Linked DNA regions of Homo sapiens: region 2 is linked to region 1. A link means that fine-mapping ties the variant in region 1 to the expression of a gene that starts in the linked region. Tissue or cell type: whole blood. Region 1 holds a variant in brackets; the other region holds the start of a gene. All regions are shown on one strand. Distances are between the middles of the regions.

The links.
Region 2: CERS6 starts here. The variant in region 1 is fine-mapped to the expression of CERS6 in whole blood (INTERVAL, PIP 0.91).

The regions. Positions count from the first base shown.
Region 1 is chr2:168,418,661-168,428,902 of GRCh38, reverse strand. It overlaps LOC105373734 (a long non-coding RNA gene), which reads left to right and starts at 7,148. Exons shown (of 6, transcript XR_923559.3): 1 at 7,148-7,510. It overlaps LOC102724081 (a long non-coding RNA gene), which reads left to right. Exons shown (of 4, transcript XR_002959433.2): 3 at 359-1,429; 4 at 6,250-6,472. The variant A/G (reference allele first, on the strand shown) is at 5,658.
Region 2 is chr2:168,450,509-168,460,710 of GRCh38, reverse strand. CERS6 (ceramide synthase 6) reads right to left here and starts at 4,439. Exons shown (of 10, transcript NM_203463.3): 1 at 4,093-4,439. The coding sequence starts at 4,262. LOC102724081 (a long non-coding RNA gene) reads left to right here. Exons shown (of 4, transcript XR_002959433.2): 1 at 1-3,680. It also overlaps the pseudogene RN7SL813P. RefSeq lists silencers at 3,748-3,807, 4,258-4,387, 4,508-4,597, 4,628-4,847.

The DNA.
Region 1 (10,242 bases):
CAACCCTGCCTTGAAGTGATATAAACTACCTTCCTTGGAACAACCTTGGTGGTACCAGGTACTCAGGTGCTGCCTATTTGGTGCACCCTTGTGCAGTAAAGTTACACCTGAAGGAATCTACTGCACTCTTGCCTCATCTTCTGAACCAAGGGCTCCAAGTCCTCTAGAGTAGTAAGACAAACCAACATCCGTGGACTAGAGGTTATGATGGAGAAACAAGGGTAAGTGGAGTCCAATAATAACAAGCTATTTTTGTGTCCGCTTCATCCTCACCCCACCAAAGCTTGAGCAGAAACTTTATGATGTGGTCCATTCAGTTTAACCTCTAACATTTGCTTTCCCTTTTTTTTTTCTCTAGTTCACTCTTTGAGAGAGAGATAAATAAACATTAAAATGTAAAGAAAAAAAAAATCAGCAATGGAAGGAAAAAGGAACAAAAAGCAATCCATTGGCGTCAAGCTTGACTGGACCACTCCACTGCTCTGCTGCCGTTAGTGAACCTGACCCTGCAGCAGGAGTCACAGACTCACCACTCACCTCAAGTCCTCACTCCCTGGACCCTCAATCTACACATCACTTTGTCTTTTATTTCCCTGAGAAATACAGGCCATCAGTTTGCAGATCCCTCCTTTCCCCTTACCCTGCAAATCTCCATCTATTTGGAAAAGTGTGCCTCCTACATTCCAAAGCTAACCCCTCCTCCTCTGCCACTAATATCAGCCCTACCTGCCTTCTTCTGTAACTTGCTCCATTAATTCCCTCCCCTCTCCCCCAGGTCTCCCTGCCTATGAACATATTCAAGGACATCATATCTTAAAAACAAACAAATATCAGGCACAATGGCTCACACCTGTAATCCCAGCACTTTGAGAGGTCAAGGCAGGAGAATCACTTGAATCCAGGGGTTCAAGACCAGCCTGGGAAACATAGGGAGACCCTATCTCTACAAAAAATATTTTTTAAAAAAATTAGCCAGGTGTGGTGGTGTGCACCTGTAGTCCCAACTACTCAGAAGGCTGGGGTGGGAGAAATATTTCAGCCCAGGACGTCACTGTGCACAATTGCTTTACTTTTTTTTCCCTTGGTATAGACTTGTTGAAGAGTAAGCCTTCATGTACTGTTTCCTCACTTTACATTCACTCTCAACTGGAGACAATATAGAGTCTTCGCAGATGCAGCTTTCTCCAGACCAACAATGTGGTTAGACATCTGGTTTTTCATTGTTGTTGTTTGATTTCTCTGACTAGCTTCCCTGACCAGAGGTCGTTTTGAGTTTCCTTCTCTGGAATTTGACCACTGAGCAGAGACACATAGGAGAGAAGACGTGAATGCTGAGTCATCAATCAGCATCACTGGGAAGAAAAAGCCTCTCAGTTTCTTCTGCTGGGACTCCCAGAGCTGGAGTATTTTCTGCTCTTCCTAAGGCCTGGTAATTCAGCTCTTTGTGAGACTGTGAGCTTTACCATACCCTTCCAGTAGCAACCTTCTTCTTTTTTAAGTTCATTGCGGGGAATAGGGAGTGATGGCTGATGGACATAGGGTTTCTTTTTGGGGTGACAAAAATCTTCTAAAATTAAGTGGTGGTGATGGTTGCACAATTTTGAATATACTAAAAACCGTGAATTCTAAAGTTTAAACAGGTGAATTCTGTGCTATATAAATTGTATCTCAATGAAATTACTAATATTCTAAAGCCTCCCAAGTGACTTAGATGTTCGGTGAGTGTTGAAAGCCAGTTATTTATCACATCCTTAAGTCCTGCTACCTTTCTCTCACTCTCTAAGTTCAGTTTCCTCTTTGGTTTGACTTGGACCAATCTGCAACAACTCTTGATGTTTCTTGTAAATTCTATGACTAACTCCCAGAGCTTCTCCTGTCTATCTGATACGCATTTAGCTTCTCCTTTCAGGCCTCAAACAGCATGTTTAGAACAGAACTGATCTTCTTCTCCCCAACCTGCTTTACCTTTTCTATTTCTCACTCAGTTACTGGCACAAACTTCTCCATATATGTTTAAGAAGACCTCTACTTTGACTTTCCCTGCTCCTTCTAACTTACATCCAATTAATCAAAACGTTGTATCAGTTTTATTTCTGAAACAATCTCTCCCATCTTCCTTATCTCTTCATTCCACTGCCAGGTCTGAGTCCACCCTTTACTATTTTCTGTTGGATTAAGGCAAACCTCCTGTAAAGAGCTGCCCTGTCTCCTGCAGTCTCATCCTCCAGTACCCCTTCATGCCTACACTGAAGTCCTCTTCCTAAAACAGGAATAGGGTTAACTCACTCACCTCCCCTAAACCTGTTAGTGGCTCTGCACTGAGTACTGGATCAAGTCTAATGTAATGAGAAGGCCCATTCAATCTGGGCCAAACTTTCCTTCTTAGCCTAGTGTCCTCCTATGCCCCCTGCACAGACCTTAGCTCCAATCACACTAACCCATGCCATTACCTGGACACACTGTGCTAGTCTACACTCACGTGCCCCCAGCTCACATCTCCCCTTTTCCTGGAATGCCATGTCCATATGGCCTGGAGAATGACCTAAAGTTAGTGCCAGCAGAGAGCTTATCAGTAGTGGGGCAGATCACAGGGGAGAGCAGGTTTTGGAGCTAGGGTGAGGTGTCAATGAGAAGAAGGGTGATTTATTAAGAAGTAAGCTCATTTCAAGCCATACACCTGAAACCTGACGCCCAAAGAGGAGGCAGAGACCCAATCAACTACTGATACAGTTTGTGAGGCTGGAGACTTGAGAGAACAATAGGTTGAGGCAAGTGTAACCAATGGATTAATTCCTTACCAATCTAGGATTCCTGGAGCGTGGAGTGCTCCAGGCCTGGTGGCACCAAGACTTTAAAAAGAAAAACCATTACACAGTGAGATTTGGTCTCTACACAAAATTTAAAAATTAGTGTGGTGTGGTCGCACACAACTGTAGTAACAGCTACTCAGGAGGCTGAGGTGGGAGGATCGCTTGAGCCCAGGAGTTTGAGGCTTCTAGGAGTTTGAGGCTTGCTATGTTGCTCAGGCTGACCTCCAGCTCCCGGGCTCAAGAGATTCTCCCGCCTCAGCCTCCTGTGTTGTTGGGACTACAGGCACGCACCACCATGCCCTGCTGGTTAGCTGTTTTTAAAAATTATTTTTAAAGCATCATTAAATTTCTCATACTGAAAAAAATGGCCTGGATACTTTAAGAAGAATAAGACAGATTTGAGCATTCAGCAATCATAGCTGAACTTCCTAAGAGACTATAGCAAGCTGGTTACTAGGGAAATTGTTTTTTTCCTTACTGAAAAAAAATCCGGTGTTAATATATCATTTTAGATGTGTAATGTTTAGGGGTCCTTATTGTTCAAGGAATATAAAGTAAGAGGGGCCGTCTCTCATTGTATAATATAAAACAAAAAAGAAAAAGTATTGATCTCAGAGAGAAAGTAAATTGTAGCTAAATTAGAGGAAGAAAATCATGCCTCTTATTTATCCTTGACTCCCCACTGACCAGCACAGTGCTCAAGAAATTTATTAAATGAAAAAAGAATCAGAAAAAAAATTAAAGGAAGAAAAAGAGGAAGGAAGAAAGTTAGGAAGGGAGGGAACATATCTTAAAAGAAACTGTAAACCAGTCTGTTCTGGTTTTTTTTTTTCCCCTCCTAGTTGCCAATTGAAGTTTCTTCTTAAAAATAACCCTATGTCAACTGAACTAAGTTAAAACGTGCTAACCTGGGAAAGATAAAAAGAAACATTATGTCTCTATAGGTTCTTTGTGATGAAACAAATCCGCCTCAACCCAGAACACTAGCAAAGCGTGGGGTAAGGCAAATAAGACTTAAAAATTTTGATGATTTGTAGAAAACAGAAGTTCACAGTTCAGCAGTTCCTTCTTGCTTGGGATGATCTTCACAACACCAGCCCCCAAATGGAAGGGTAACTAACTGCTCCAGTTCAGTTGGCTACCTTGTGAGGCTGGCATCCATTCCTAGCAAAAATGGGCAGAAATGGGGAAATGCCTCCCCTTAAGACCATAGCTTTTCACCTTGACCTTCCTCCATTTTATCTACTCCAGAAGGTCTCCACCAAGCTCCCAGCAGCACAGCATGCTCAAAACCTGACATATCCATGGTAACTTTTCACAGCAATGTGATGAAATTTGAGAAACAAACCAGAAATGTAATGTGATCACCCACATCATATCAGCCTCACAGGCAATCAAGAGCTTGGCTTCAATTACAAAATGAACTCCAGAAATCTTCCAACAGTTAGTCAATCCCAGCCTTTCACATGAAAATGTATTTAATTTACATAATACTGTGAAGAAGGTATTGTTATGATCCTCACTTTGCAGCCTATGGAAGTAGGGATTAGTCCTTGATGAAGAGTCAGAAGATGTATGTACTTTCAAAAGTGATTTAATATGGAAACTGGAAAAAAATTATAAAACATGTAATGGAATCCTAAATAGGATACTGATAAGGTTTGGCTCTGTGTCCCCACCAAAGTCTCACCTTGAATTGTAATAATCCCCACGTGTCAAAGGCAGGTCCAGGTGGAGATAATTGAATCATAGGGGTGGTTTTCCCCATACTGTTATGATAGTGAGTTCTCATGAGATCTGATGGTCTTATAAGGGGCTTTCCCCCTTTTGCTCAGCACTTCTCCTTGCTGCTGCTGTGTGAAGAAGGATGTGTTTTCTTCCTCTTCCTCCGTGATTGTAAGTTTCCTGAGGCCTCCTCAGCAATGCTGAACTGTGAGTCAATTAAATCTCTTTCCTTTACAAATTAACCAGTCTTGGGTATGTCTTTATTAGCAGCATAAGAACAGACTAATACAGATACCCAAAGTCATTGGTATTAGGACAAAGGAGCAGAAATTCATAAAGGAAAGACAGAGACACAGAGAGATGGCTGACTTTTTTCTTAATGCCAGGTTTTAGAAATGAAAGTATTTAAGGCTTTGATAATATATATTATCAAATTATATTTCAAAGTGTGGTAATAATCTACAGTCCTTCCCAAAAGTCCTGAAAATGTTTATTTCATTTCATTAGATATGATACATTTAAAAGTCCTTAAACCTTGATACACAAGAATATATACAAATAATTTTGCACTTTCTTCAACATTTTCTTGTATGTGTGATAAATACATTTCCTATTCTGTGTATTATCATTATGGTTTTTATACTTTTCATGTTTTAATATTTTAAATTATTTTATAACAAACGTATTAACCTTTAAAAAGAAGACAAATGTAGACTGTCTTTAATTACATTCTGCATTAGAAACCATAAATATTTTAGCATTCAAATTCATGCAGTCGAGAAGAGTCTTAAAAAATTCTGTAGGTGTTCAAATGAAAATATAAAGAGATTGGAGAAAAATTGATCTCAAGCAAGAGAGAGAATAAAAATCACTCGTAAGAAGTATAGGTGTTCTCATGGCTAAATTTGGCAGTGGTGGTAAAAATGGGAGGTGTAGATAAGAAGATTTCAAATAGAAGAAATAATCAAGAATATATCCTTAAAACGCTGAGTTGAAACATAAAACTGAAATACCATTATATAGGTGATTCTATTATGCAACCAGAGTTGAGAACCACAGATCTCATTGATTTATGCAGTCCTTTCCATCAAGAACCCTCTCTGACTTTAAATTCAATGTATC[A/G]GTACATTGATATTTTATCACATCCACTTCCTTTCTGTCCGTAGTCACCTTGGATGGACAGTTTACACAATAATTTGTAGAAATAATAATAATAAAATAATGTGGAGAAGAGTTTCCACAATAATTTTTGGAATTTAATGATTTTGACATTACACATAGTCTTAATGGTTTGATAGAAACAAATGTGTGACTTGATAAAAGATCAGCTGATCTCATGAATTCTTAAACACAGCTCTTTAAGGAATTTTTCCTTTTATAAGGAATCATCATCTTAGAAAAACATTTAAGCTTTTAATATCATTGGACTTGCTATTATTTTTAGTTTATGAATTTTTTTAAAAAAATTAGAAATGAATTAAAATTAATGGCAGAAATACCTTCAAATACTTTCACACTGACTAATCTGAATGGGGTTAGGGACAGATGACAGCAACTCAAAATGACACAGAGGAAGAAACTTCAGACTTCCTGGGGATTTTCTGGTAAACTCTGACTAAAAACTAACTCCTCTGATTGTGCAGCAATGTTCCCTGCTAACATAGCCTTCCTTTTGGACTACCAGCTTTTTTTTTTTTTTTTTTTTTTGAAACAGAATCTCACCTTGTCACCCAGGCTGGAGTGCAATGGCATAATCTCAGCTCACTGCAACCTCTGTCTCCCAGGCTCAAATGATTCTCCTGCCTCAGCCTCCTGAGTAGCTGGGATTACAGGCGCCCATGGACTACCAGCTTTTTAAGTAGACTTTTTAGCCAAAGGCCAAGGGAAACTACCCTCTTCCTACTGGGGTTCAAATTGATTAAAATGGTTTGCTTTGACTTTTGTTGAAGTCTCTTTATTTTCTTTTTAAGATTATGTTAAATTATAATCCACATTGGCTTTCTTTTTACAGGTAAACTTTTTCTCTTCTAGATTTCTAGACGGCCTTCCCCCACTTCGCTTCTCTCTCTGCCATTTTCCTCCCCTCTCCCGCCTCCCCAAGTTAGAAGAGGCTGACAAAAAGAGGCTCATCAAAGTTAAATGTTGCCAACATAAATTGGTCCCTCTTCTCTTCCTTGATGTGACTGGTCTCTCAACCTATTGATGGCATCCAGTTCCAACTTTCCTCTTCTCATTTGGGACATTGGGAGGAGAGTAGTCTCTATTTTTAATAACAAAGTAGTAAGTATGTAATGCCTCTCTTGACTGTGCAAAAGACCAAAACTGGAGAACATTTTATGCTTTGATTTTCTTTCTCTTTGTTAAAACTTAGATAAATTATCTCTTGGGAATGGAATGTTCCAGGCCTTTCTGTTTCATCCTCTCTTAGTAACAGTGTATCGTTGTGGGTTTACAGGTGAAGAAAATATCATCAAATGACAAATGGCCATAAAGATCTCTCACCCAGATTATCTAATGGTTTTACTTATGCACAGAGACTGTAGGCTCTGACTTTTTAGAGTTTTATAATCCTTTTAATAACACTTTTTTTCATTTATAGAGAACTACAGTCAGGCAGGCAGAGTATTTTCTGATTTGGATGAGTTCATAAGACATGTACATTATGGGAATTATATGATTGCTCCACCTGCATCACATCTGGACCACCTCTGGACTGAGCTGTAGGGATGCAGGGAAACCCTGCTAAGTGTCAAGCTGCACCCTGTCCTGCTGGTGCCCATGCCTAGACCCTCATTCCATTGTTCACAGAATTCTATGCCTTGGGATTTTGTCTCTACTTGTCCAGAACTCCTAATTCCTTCACTCTTCCACATTCTAGGTCCTCCTCTATCAATTTAAGTACCAGATCCCTGTCAGCTGCCTTCCCCAGACATTAAGTCAGAAGCTCAGTTTGATGGCAGGGTGTGTGTTTCCAGGTATGGAAGGGTCATGGGGGAAGCCACCACTCTCTCTGAACATATTCCCACCAAATGGCGATTATTCCAACAATTTCTCAAAGTATATGTTAACATAATGATTTTTAAGACTTAGTAGAAAAGCCCTTAAAGAAGTGAAATATGAGAATGAAACATGGCGATGAGATCATGAATTGAATAGAGAAGGGAGTTGAAAAGTTCAGCCAACCCATCCCTTCTGCACATCCAAAAGTAGGGTTCAGTCTGGGGGACTTTGTGTGCTTGGCTTCACACAAGAAAGAAGTCAAAAGCGATCTGACAGAAAAAAAGCAAGAGGAAGTTGAATGAAATAAAGGAACAAAGGGAAGACTGCTCCATAAGCAAAGTAGGGTTACCCCATAGGCAGAATAGCATTGTGGGCTGCTCACTTGTTATATTTGTGATTATTTCTTGATTATATGCTGAATAAGGGATTGATTATGCATGAGTTTTTTGTAAAAGGGGCAGGGAACTCCCAGAACTGGGGTTTTCTCCCCAGTTTAGACCATTCAGGGTAACTTCTGAGTGTTGCCATGGCAACTGTACACTGTCATGGCACTGATGGGAGCGTTTTTTAGCATGCTAGTGAATTATAATTCATGGATAATGAATAGTGAAGGTCACTTTCACTCCACCTTGGTTCTAGATGGTTTATTTATTTATTTATTTATTTATTTATTTATTTATTTATTGTTGAGACAGAGTCTTGCTCTGTTGCCCAGGCTAGAGTGCAGTGGTGAGATCTTGACTCACTGCAACCTCTACCTCCCAGGTTCAAGCGATTCTTCCGCCTCAACCTCCCAAATAGCTGGGACTACAGGTGTGCACCACCATGCCCAGCTAATTTTTGTATTTTTAATAGAGATGAGGTTTCACCATGTTGGTCAGGCTGGTCTTGAACTCCTGACCTCGTGATCTGCCTGCCTCAGCCTCCCTAAGTGCTGGGATTACAGGTATGAGCCACTGCCCCCGGCCTGGTTTCTTTATTGTTATCCTCTTAGCAGCAGGGGCTTGTGACCTGTTGTTTACTGTCTCCTGTCTTATCAGTGGGGTCATGTGGCCTGTTGTCTTGGAGACTACGACTGCCAATTCCTATCTCAGTTCTGTGGGCTGCCAGGCTCAGTCCAGGGTGGATAGACCAGGGACAAGGGTCTGCTCTGAGCATCTCACCTGCCCGAACTCATGGCATCTTCCTACCCTTCCCTGCTTTACGTCATCCTCTCTGAACTTGCCTCTTCCATCCTGTTGACTTGTGGTATGTGCCATTCCACTACAAATCCAACCAAAGTCACACTCTTGTTCCCCTCAACCTCTTGCCCCACAACTCATAAGACACAGTCATTCCTTTAAACTGGGCTATAGTCTGGTTGGAAACCCCCATGAGCAGAACTTAAAACAAGGAGGGCAGGAGAGATGGCAAAGGAAGACTGTTTGGCCCTGACTTCTTATTCACAAAGAACTCATAGATTTTTAGCCTGATCTTTTATTGCGGCATTACATACAACCACAAAGATAATGACAGGATTAAAAGACAAACATATTCATCATAGAAATTTACATTTTTGTCTTTCATATGTCTACTATGATTTCATATCTTTCATGATTTGTAGCTGATGACTAGCATACTTACTTTATTATAATTTGTATCAAAAGCCTACTGTTAATTGTAAACAATATATAATCATTGTAGGTCTATTTTGCTATTTCATCATTTTTAATATGCTAGAGCCTCAGGAAAAAAAAAAAAGAGGCGGCCCAAATTTCTCTTGTTTTCTGAGTGGCTCTATAATAATATGACAATATATGATGAGCACTATTGCTACTCAGAATTTGAAGTTAGCATGGACTGGCATAACAGAAGATAAATTTCAGGAGAGATGAACTTTAGTCTTTCCCTCTTCTACTGTTATTATGCCTTACCAGAGATTTTCACCTTTTTGGCCTCTTACACAAAAAGAATGTAGTATTTTCTTACCACTGACGTCTTACCTAAGCCTCAAGGGAACTGGCACCTCTGCTTCATTTGCTATTTACTCTCAGCTCACTAATGCATCATGCCCATGCTCTGTTAGCTGGAAGAGTCTGAGGAGTTGCAGGAAGGAGTCTCTCGGGGTAATTTTTCTCTATCCTCTCTCCTACCCACCCTTCCACCCCCACCACAACCAGAATCAAGTCTTTCTAAAAGAACTCAAAGAATTCCCCACAATGAACTTGGCTTTCAGACCCTCTCTTCTGTTTTTCTTTCCATACCTAACCAGTCCTGTTCAGAAAAGTGATCTGATTATTCTAATCAGAGACCTTTTAGAAAAGAAAATTCTAAAGACACTTTGGGCATTTGATCTGCATATGTACATTGTATGAAAGCAATTTATAAGTACCTTTTTAAAACTTTGCTTACCTGTGAGAGATTCAAAGGGAAAAAGTTACAAAGAGTAATAAAGCAGATGTCTTATTTGGCTATTTTGAATTACACATTTTAAATATTTTGTCCTGGGACCTGGCATGGTACCTCACGCCTATAATCCCAGCACTTTGGGAGGCTGAGTTGGGAGGATTGCTTGAATGCAGGAGTGTAAGACTGCAGTGAGCTATGACTGCACCACTGTACTCCAGCCTGGGTAATAAAGCGAGACCCTGTCTCTATAAATCAATCAATCAATCAATAAATATGTTGTCTCATTGGCTCTTAATCTTTTATTTATTTAAGAAATAAC
Region 2 (10,202 bases), 32 kb before region 1:
GCCAGGCCTACTCTGGGTTCTACCTAAAAGAGGTCTAAGGAAACGGAACAATTGCTTTCTCTATAGAATCTTTGTTGGTTATTCTGAAATACTGTAGCTTTTTGGAGCATAAATGATAACAGCCCAAATGATTCTTTTGACTCAAAACACAGCTGAAAAATACAAGAAACAAAACCATTGACTACAATATTTCTGTGGAAAAAAAAAATCTCTTGACCAGGTGCAGGGGCTCACACCTATAATCCCAGCACTTTGGGAGGCCAAGGTGGGCGGGTCACTTGAGCTCAGGAGTTTGAGACAAGCCTGGGAAACACAGGGAGACCCCATCTCTACAAAAAATTACAAAAAATTAGCTAGGCCTGGTAGCATGCACCTGTGGTCCTAGCTACTCGTGAGGCTGAGGTGAGAGGACTGCTTGAGCCCAGGAGGTGGAGGTTGCAGTGAGCCATGATCATGCCACTGCACTCCAGCATGGGTGATGGAGGGAGAACATGTCTCAAAAAAAAAGAAAAGAAAAAAAAAAGACATTCAGCCGCTTCAAAGTTTCATCAGATAATAATTAGTAATTTTCAAGCACAGATGATCCACAGGAATCAAAGAATCAGGAGGGTGAAAACAATAAGTTACAAAGGCCATTTGCCTCAACACATAAATGAGAAAATAAACAGAGATAAATTAGGAGGCTGCCCCAGTGTAAGTTTTGACTAGAATTTGAGTGTTCTGATTCCCGATCTATACTTCCTGCATCTCTCCTAAATCCACAGCATTAAAGTTAACATTTGTAACAATAACTCAAAGAATTTTTATTTCTAAAGAGATTCAGCACAATTTCCACATTTATAAATACCACAGCAAAACACATTTTTGAAAAAGTGAAGTTGGAAGAAGCATTTATTATAGTTCCTGAGAATGGCTTACTGAATCTAAACAAGCATTAAATCAAGAAAATTCATCAAACAGATGACAATGCTATATTATTAATAAATAACATTTTGTTCTTTGTGATCAAGTTAACATAATATAATGGTATACAATTTTTATTCTAAGAGAATCAGCCCAGTTGGGGGAAAAAAAAAAACCCACATACTTTACTCTGTCAATCAATTGGTCGCTACAGTGGTCCTGGTCCTTACCCGGAGTTAAGTATGGTATAAAGGCTATGCTAAAAACCACCAAGCTTTGAGATCTTCACAGACTCAGCCAAAAGTCATTGACCTTAGGCTGCCCCATTTTTTACCAACCATGCTGGGCTTCCATATTGCTGTCCATATGCTGTCATAAAGTGACATGTTCTGGCTACCAATGCCTCCACTATCCACACCACAACAGCCGGGATGAAAATAAAAAGAAAGGACTGTTTAACTGGGCAAAGCCCATTTCAGTCAATTCTTTGATGTTTCTCTTAGTAGAGAGAAATACCTAAGACTGAGAAGAAGGCATTCAAATTCACGATTTTAGCCTCAACAAGGACATTACTGACTTCACTTAATGTAAAATAAAGACTTGGATAATCGGGTATTTCTTAGGTATGGTCTCAGCTTTGAAATAAATGACAAAGCATACAAAGAGAAGAATCTTGAGAGAATTATTCCTATTACAAAAGCATTTCATTCTACAAAGGGATTCACAACAGGCTTTTAAAATCATCGTATACATTATAGAATACTGCAAAAGAAAAGGATGTATATACAAAATGCTAGAAGGCCATTGAATGTGAGTTGTAGCAGTGATAATACTGAATGGTTCTGTTTTATTGATTCAGGCCCTTGATGGATGCTACTGAGATGAAGGTCACAGGTTGGATCCCAGAATATGTCATTTAGGTTTGAGAAGAGGAGAAACATGCAGAACTTCTAACTCTAGATACAACTAAATTGTGGATTTTCAGAGAATTGAGAAGGTCTGAATGGTTAAAGACAGAGCTATCATAGGAAGAAACAAAGTAGATAGTCTTCCAAAAGTCAGTAGCATTCTGTGACATATGTGCCATATTGGATTATTATTCTGAACATTAACCATAAACTTTCACTTTCCATACAGGCCATTAAATCTCTTCTACTTAGATCAATGGCCTGAAGGAAACTGACCAACTCACTTTATATCAATATGAGGACATTTGCTGTGACTGACAATTGAAAGCAGCTCACCCCTCTATGTAAACTCTAAGTCGAGTCATGGGATTATGGAAAAAAAGAAAGAAAATAAAAAATGTTTAGAAAGAGGAAAAATGAACTTCCAGTTTTCAACTATCACATTAGTGTTTATCTTTTTAGAGGCAGAGACAATCTAAGTACAAAGCCATCTCCATTCTAACAACTTAATTTTTTTAAACACAGTGAACAGCCTGGAATCAGCATAGAGAAGGAGGATGTCAGGAAAATTCGGCTGTTTGTGCACAGATCATGCTTTTGTTCTCCAACACATAAGACTGCACATCTCTTTCAAATGCATTATCTATCTAAAAGTGAGCCCAGCCAGAATTTATCAGACACAATTTATCATAATTCAGCAATTGTGTGTAGATCCCCTACTATGTGCCAACATAGAGCAAACCTGCTATCCCTGAGTCTGCTTGTTTTTGGAGAGCCTGCAAAACTGTATAGAGTTCATATTTTCTGTAACCAAACATTTGCTCTAGAGGTAACTCTACACCTGCAAACACACCCATTTTTTCACAGCACTGCTGTGACTTTTTTGATCCTTTTTTGTATAGGATCAATGACACATCTGTATTAGATTCCAATAATTTAAACATAGGTCTTAAAGTCTGTTGCTTTGTGCATGTCAATTTCTGCAGGCGAACAGCTGACTTCGTTTTCAAGCAACAATACTGTCCGGTGAAAAATATACCTTCCTGAGACAAAAGATACTTTTTGTCCCCATGAAGCTTTGTTGCCTCGTCCAGCAGCAAATGACTCAAAAGACGCGTTCTGCCACCCTCAACAGTCGTTTTCAGGCAAAGAGGAACAGCAAATGAGGTACCAGCAAAAGCTTAAGAAACAAAACCAAGGTGAGTTGAAGGCGGGGAAGAAAGGCGGAGTGGAAGCGAGAAATGCAATCTAAACTCTACTTTGTGATCTAAGAAATTCAGCCTTTACTGATGAATTGGGCAGAGGAAGGGGAGGGTACAAGAAAGGGGAAGATAATATTTTCTGTTACGAAAAAAAAAGTGTGCTGCTGTCCTGGTTTTCTTTCAGTAGCACCCAGAGAATGCATGGCAGGCACAATCTAGTTTCGCGACGAAAACGAATTCCATGAGAATAACACAAGTTTGTATGTGACACAATGGAGATATCCAACCAAACCGAGGAACTATACAATTGCATGACAATTCCTCAAAATTTTAAGTGCCTTCGAGTACCAAAAAAGAAGTTTATGATTATTCACAGGACAGGGTTATCAGTTTAATATCACCATTTTGCAGGATGTGGACCCGTCCTGTCACATCCTCTTTTAAAGAAACCGCTAATAACCTGAAATGCTATTATCCCCTATTTGCCAGGACTGTGGGCCTGATAGTTTCACGGATAAAAACCAAACAGCGACCAGAAGCCAGGAAGTCCCTGGCGAATTCTTTTGAAGCACAACCCCTACAATCCGTGTGCCGGAGCATAAAGATTGAAGTGTGCGCGGTTCCTCCTCCCTCCGGGCCGCGCGTCCGGAACGTTCCTGGCTGTCAGGTGGGTGGCGCGGGCCCCGGCGGGAAGCCCTGCCTGGCAGCCTTGCGTGGCGCGCCGGCGGAGAGGGGCGAGCCCCGCGGAATGCGGCGGGTCCTGAGCCCGACCACCGCTCACCTTTGTTCGCCTGCCCTTGCCGGGAGGAGAGCAGGGCCCAGGAGGAGGGCAGGGGGCGACCCTAACGCTCCGCGGCTCCTCCCCGGCGCCCGGGAGGAAATCCGTGGCAAGCCAGACCCTTTCTGGCTCCCAGAAAGCCAGCGGGGCAGGGGGGTCAGCAACCCCTCCCCGAACACAAAGGTTGGGAGGCGTGAACGCGAGCGTTGGGGGCGCGGGGGCGTGCGCCAGAGAGCGCGCGAGTGTGTGCGCGCGTGTGTGTGCGCAGGGGGAGGGGAGGAGGGGCTTCAGCCCTTCTTACCTCTCGAAGATGAGCCGCACCATGAAGATACAGAAGGCCAGGGGAAAAGCGAGATAGAGGTCCTCAGCCTGCGGGAAGGTGGCCTCCTCCGTGTTCTTCAGGTCCGCCCAGGTGACATTGTGCGGGAGCCAAAACCTCTCGTTCCAGAACCAGGCTAAGATCCCTGCCATCTTGCTTTGTCCACTCCTGTCCTGCGGCACCCGCAGCCCGCCAAGCTCTCCACCGCGCAGGGCGCCCGGGGATGCGCGCCCGGCTGGCCCCGAGCCTGTGCCGCCGCCGCCGCTGCTCCCGCCCGCCGCCGCCGCCTCCTCCGCGGCCGCTGCTCTCGAAGGCTCGCGGCGAGCCCCGGTTCTCTCCTCCCTCTGGCCGCGCTGGGGAAAGGGGCCGCCTTGCCCGTCACATGGCAGCTCGGGCCGCCCGCCCTGATTGGCTCGTCTTCGCGTCAAACAGCGAGGCACACACGCGGCCAACTCGCCCACACCCGCAGGGCAGGGCGCAGTCGCTGCGCCCTGGGCGCAGGGGCACCGCTCCGGGGAGTGTCGCCCGCCCCTGCTCTCACCGCTCTTTCGCTTTGCGCTTAGGGCGACGACCTAAAGTCGACCCCCCAAATCCGCCCTAGCCCCCTGGCTGGCTCGCACATGCTCAGAATGCTGGCTCCTGCCCCGCTGGGGTTTCAGGGCTCTCAGTCCTCTTCCCGTGCGCCCGGAGGCGGTGGGTCAGCAGGTAGGGGCTGCCGCCAAGCTTCAGAACCAGCCCTGCTCCAGGAGGACAGCAAAAAAAAAAAAAGGGGGGGGGAGGGGGAGGGGTAAAGAGCAAAGGAGGAAGTGGGAGGGAAAGGATCCTCCACTCCCGCGCTTGGAGAGGCAGGGTGAAAAATCAGGAACTGAGGCAGGATGGTTTGGCAAGAGCCTTCTGCCTCTGCCCCACGCCTGCCTTTCCCCAATCTTTGACTTTCCGGTCTTTTATACTGCTGCTTCTCATCAAAGTAGCTCCCCCAGGGAACAAGCCCCCCTATATTGATTTATGAGGTGGTACAAAAAATTAGGCACTTAATTGCTATTTGATTATTAATTGCTACTTGATGACGATGATGATGATGATGATGATGATGATAGCAACTGCAGCGTTCTGTAAAACCACCCCTCTCAACTAACCTCTCTGAAAAGGCTGCTAGACCACATTTTGACCTGGCACATCATGAGAACCTCCACTGTGCTACTCGGCAGGCTCATTATTTCTGCCTTTTGAATCTAAAACCTTTAAGGCATTAGGCCTGTGAGGCCTAACCCAGGCACCTTCCCTCCCGCAATGCATTTCCCCATTGATACAGGAGCCATGTGTGAATTCATTCCATGGCCCATGTATACATGGTTCTGGGGCATTTTTGTTCATTTTTCTCACATTCATTTTCTGCCTGGTGCTGCCAGTAGGCTATACTAAACCTTTCCAGTGGGCATATAACCGCACACACACACACACACACACACACAGAGAGAGGGAGTTTCTTTTACTCTTCCCTCCCCTCTTTCCACTCTATCTCTTGAAAGTGAAACTGAAGAATGGCCTATACTGGTGCTTCCAATTTCTCTCCCCTCATTTTCTTTTGAACTTCCATTTGGACATTTGTCTCCTCTGCTGCATTGAAACTGCCCAAGGTCACCTGTGATCTTCATGCTGCTAAACACAAAGGTCAGTTCTTATCTTAGTCCAGGCTGCTTAGACTAGGTGGCTTAAACAGCAGAATTTATTCCTCACGGTTCTGGAGGCAGGGAAGTCCAAGATCAACATGCAGGCAGATCCAGTGTCTGGCAAGGATCCTCTTCCTGGTTTGAAAACAGCTGTTTTCTTGTGTATCCTCACATGGCAGAGAGCACAGAAAGAGGAAACACAGATTAGTGCCCTATCTTCTTATAAGGGCACTAATCCCATTCATGAAGGTTCTACCCTCATTAGCTAATTACCTCCCAAAGACTCTGTCTCTGAATACTATCACATTGGGAACTAGGATTTCAGCATATGAATTTTGGGGGACACACACATTCAGTTCATAGCAGTTCACAACACCTCTGTCAGTAGCATTTGGCCCAGTTGTCAGGTCGTGTGTCTTAAAACATTCTTGACTTGGCTTCCAGAAACCTCACTCTTCTGGGTTTCTTCCTCCTTCATGGCCATTTCTTCTCAGTCTCCTTCCTGGTTACTCCTCACTTTTCTAACCCCTAGAAGTTATAGTGGCCTAGGAGTCAGTCTTTTTTCCTCTTCACTTTTCTATCTGAATGTATTCATTTGGTGATTTTATCCAGTCTCGTGGCTTTTAATGACATCTGTATGCCCTCCAATGTCATGCTAATAGCTCCCATATTTATATCTCTAGCCATGAACTTTTTCCTGACCTTCTGACTCTTAAATCCACTGGCAATTTAACACCACCACTCAGATGTCTAAAAGCTATCTCATGACCAAACTATTAATCTTCCCCTTGAAATCTCTTCCTCCTGTAGTCTTGGCTCAAGCCAAAAATGTGGAGTCATTTTTTCCCCTTCTCTCTTTCTCTCATACCTCCTTTCCAATCCATCCCAAATCCCATCAGCACCATTTTAAAACCATAATCTCACCATCTCTCACCACCTCCCCTGCTACCATCTTGGTCCAAACAACCAATACTTCTAATTCACATTACTCCAGTAACCTCCCAACTCCCAGTTTCACCCTTTGCCCCTCTACAGTCTATTCTCAGCCAGTGTGATCCTATGCAAATTTGTCAGATCACCCCTGGGGTGAAAACCCTGCTTCTTCCTCATCCCTCCCAAGTGAAAGCCAAATTATTCCAATGACCTGTGATATTTGGTTCCGTATTAACTCTGACTTATTTACTCTTCTCTCTCCTTCACTCTGCCTGAGTCCACACTGGCCACCCTGCCCTTACTGGGACACACCAGCTATGTCTTAGAGCCTTTGTGCTTGCTCTTCTCTGTCCCTGGAACTCTTTTTACACGAACATCCATGTTTGCTCTGTACTGATGTCATTTTCTCCCTGAAGCCTTCCCTGGCCACCCTAGTTAATCTACATCCCTCAATCCCCACCACCACTCTTCCTATCTTGCTTTGTTTTTCTCCAAGACACTTACCACCGTCAACACAAGATATATTGTACCTATATCTTCATCAATCATCCACACAGACATGCACTAAAATGTAAGCTTCAGAAAGTTAAAAGATTTGTATTTATTTTATCAACTGTTCTATTCCTAGCACTTAAAAAAAAAAACTGCCCGGCACATTGTAGATACTCAATAAACTACTGAATAAATGAATCAACATTACTCCAACCCCAAAAAGTCTTCTCAAGGAGAAGAAAAAAAATCTGAATAATTGTGTTAAATATTTATATATCCATGTTAGACTCGTGTGTAGAATAGTGTGGGCATAAAGAAGGAATTGGTCAATTCTGGGGTGAGGGAGGTGAGGTGTCATTGAAGTGAGTCTTCATTTGGGAGTAGAAGTCGCCATCACCACTCTAGACCATGTGGTGAGCTTCTCAGTAACACTGGAACATGCCTTGGCACCAGCTGCATTCTCGTAGGCCATAGACAGAGGTTTGTTAAGACCTCTCACCAACTTTGTGTCCGAAAGTCATGTCATGACATGTCATGACATGTCAGAGCCTGGCCTTCTGGGCCAGCCAGACTTCTTCTGTGACTACCCCTGGTTTCTCATGTCACTCCTTCCTGTATGACCTGATAGTACCTTGCTTCCTACTCCATGGCTTCTGTGCTCTCCAGCAGCTCCTTCTATGTCCCCAAGCATGTATAATACTGTTGGTGAGTTAATGCCCTGGGATCTGACTTTGATCATGGGCAATGAAGACAGTAAGTACATTTTTATTCCTTTCCTCCCCACCCCTCGGACACACACAATGGCTTCAAACAGCCTCTCTGAAAATACCCCCTGCTACAAACCCATCATTTTATTTCAAGATTGTGACCCACTCAGTAACTCACCCCCTGATATAAACTCATCATTTTATTTCAAGATTGTGACCCACTCAGTAATTCACCCCCTTATATTTCCTCTCCTCTTTCTCATCTCACTCTCCTTTTCTCTCATTCCTGCTTCCCTGAAACTACACTTCCCTGGAACTTAGAAGCTAAACTAATAGGAGCTAAACTAAGATAATGTGGCTCTCCCATTCATCAACTTTGAGAAGGTGGTGGGATTTCAGGAACATTTTGAAGGGTGAGTTTTGTTGGACAGTAAAAGGAGGATTTAGTACTTTCTATGAATCTTCCATAAGTTCCTTTGTTTCTAAGAGCGTGTTAATACCCTCCTGTGTGATTTGTGCATCAACAGTACCTGTCTTGCCTCTGTCACTGACTGTCATGAGGCTCACATAAGATAACATATGAGAAAGGGCTTGTAAACTATTCTTCTCTATACCCATGTACAGTTCAGCAAACACCTACTCCTCATCTGTCTAGTAGAACTCCTCCAGCCAATGCCCCTTCCTACCACTTTGCATCTAAACGTTTACCCCAGAAACATATTAGAGTAAACTATCATTCCAAATATGATCACATTTTATTGATCCAGGGATGGACAATTGGCCTAACATGGCAATAAAAGCCTTACTCCGGTGTTGTGAGTCGGGTCAAGACTGTCTTTCTCTGGATGCTTAGATTCAAGGATTCCAACTCAGAAGCTGTTGGCCCCCTTGCTTCATTACACAGCTAGAAAAAGCAGAAGCTAGTCTACAACAAGAGAAAAAAAATAAAGCAGACCTGTAGAGTTAAGACCTGCAGAGTTAAAGGTAAGAGACACACAGGGAGTCCTGTTGGCATTGGAGCTCCAGGTTCCATTTAATACCTAGGGGCCAACTACCTTCTCATCCTTAGGTTCTGTGAAACAGCCTCATAGCTTGATAAATTCTGCTTTTGGGTTGAGTTGCTGCTATTTCAGTTTGCAAAAAAATCCCACTATCCAAGACATTACTCTAAGAGCACATGTCTTTTTTTTTAAGAGATGGGGTCTCACTATGTTGCCTAGGCTGGAGTGCAGTCCCACTACTGATGAGCATGGGAGCTTTGACCTGATCAGTTTCCAGTCTGGGTCAGTTCACCCCTCCTTAGGCAACCTGGTAATCCCCTGCTCCTGGGAGGTCACCATATTGATTCTGAACTTAGTGCAGACACCCATTTGGCATAGTGCACTATAGCCCAGAACTCCTGGGCTCAGGCAGTCCTCCTGCCTCAGCCTCCTTCCCAAATAGCTGGACCACAGGTGCATACCACTGTGCACAGCAAGAGTACATGTCTTTAACGCTATCCTGAGCTCAGCTGAGGCCCCAGGGAAGTTAGTCACAGGAGGGGGATAGCACAGCATACCTCTCAAGAAAGCTACTTTGTAAATGTACAGGAAAGACTTCTAATTGGTGCCCCAGGAAACCAAAATACAATTTATGCATCAGACTAATATGTAGCCCAGTGAGAAAGTAAGTAGCTGGTCGGTAAAGGGACAAGGCAAGAGAAAAGGGGAGAAAAAAAAATGTGTTCAGGGGAAGTGACACCAGTTACACTGCATATTAGGAAAGCATGCTTTGTTTTCTGAATAGAAAACATCACCTGAGAATACACCCTGATTTCCAAGCAACTGGAAAATATCAACAAAGCTGAGCTTTATCTCTCATTCTCAGGTCCACACCCAGGTCTTAATTTGAGTTCACATTGTAAGCAGTCTCCACTTTTTTTTGTTTGTTTTGTTTTGTTTTGTTTTGAGACAGAATCTCGCTCTGCCCAGGCTGGAGTGCAGTGGCGCAATCTCGGCTTACTGCAACCTCCACCTCCCAGGTGGTTCTCCTGCCTCAGCCTCCTGAATAGCTGGGATTACAGGCACGTGCCACCACACCTGGCTAATTTTTGTATTTTTAGTAGAGACAGGGTTTCACCATGTTAGTCAGGCTGGTCTCAAACTCCTGACCTCGTGATCTGCCCGCCTCGGCCTCCCAAAGTGCTAGGATTACAGGCGTGAACCACCGCGCCCAGCTGCAGTCTCCACTTTTTAGATGCAGGAGATCAGCCAGCAGTTTGGATGAATTTCCACTATGGGTTGCATAACAC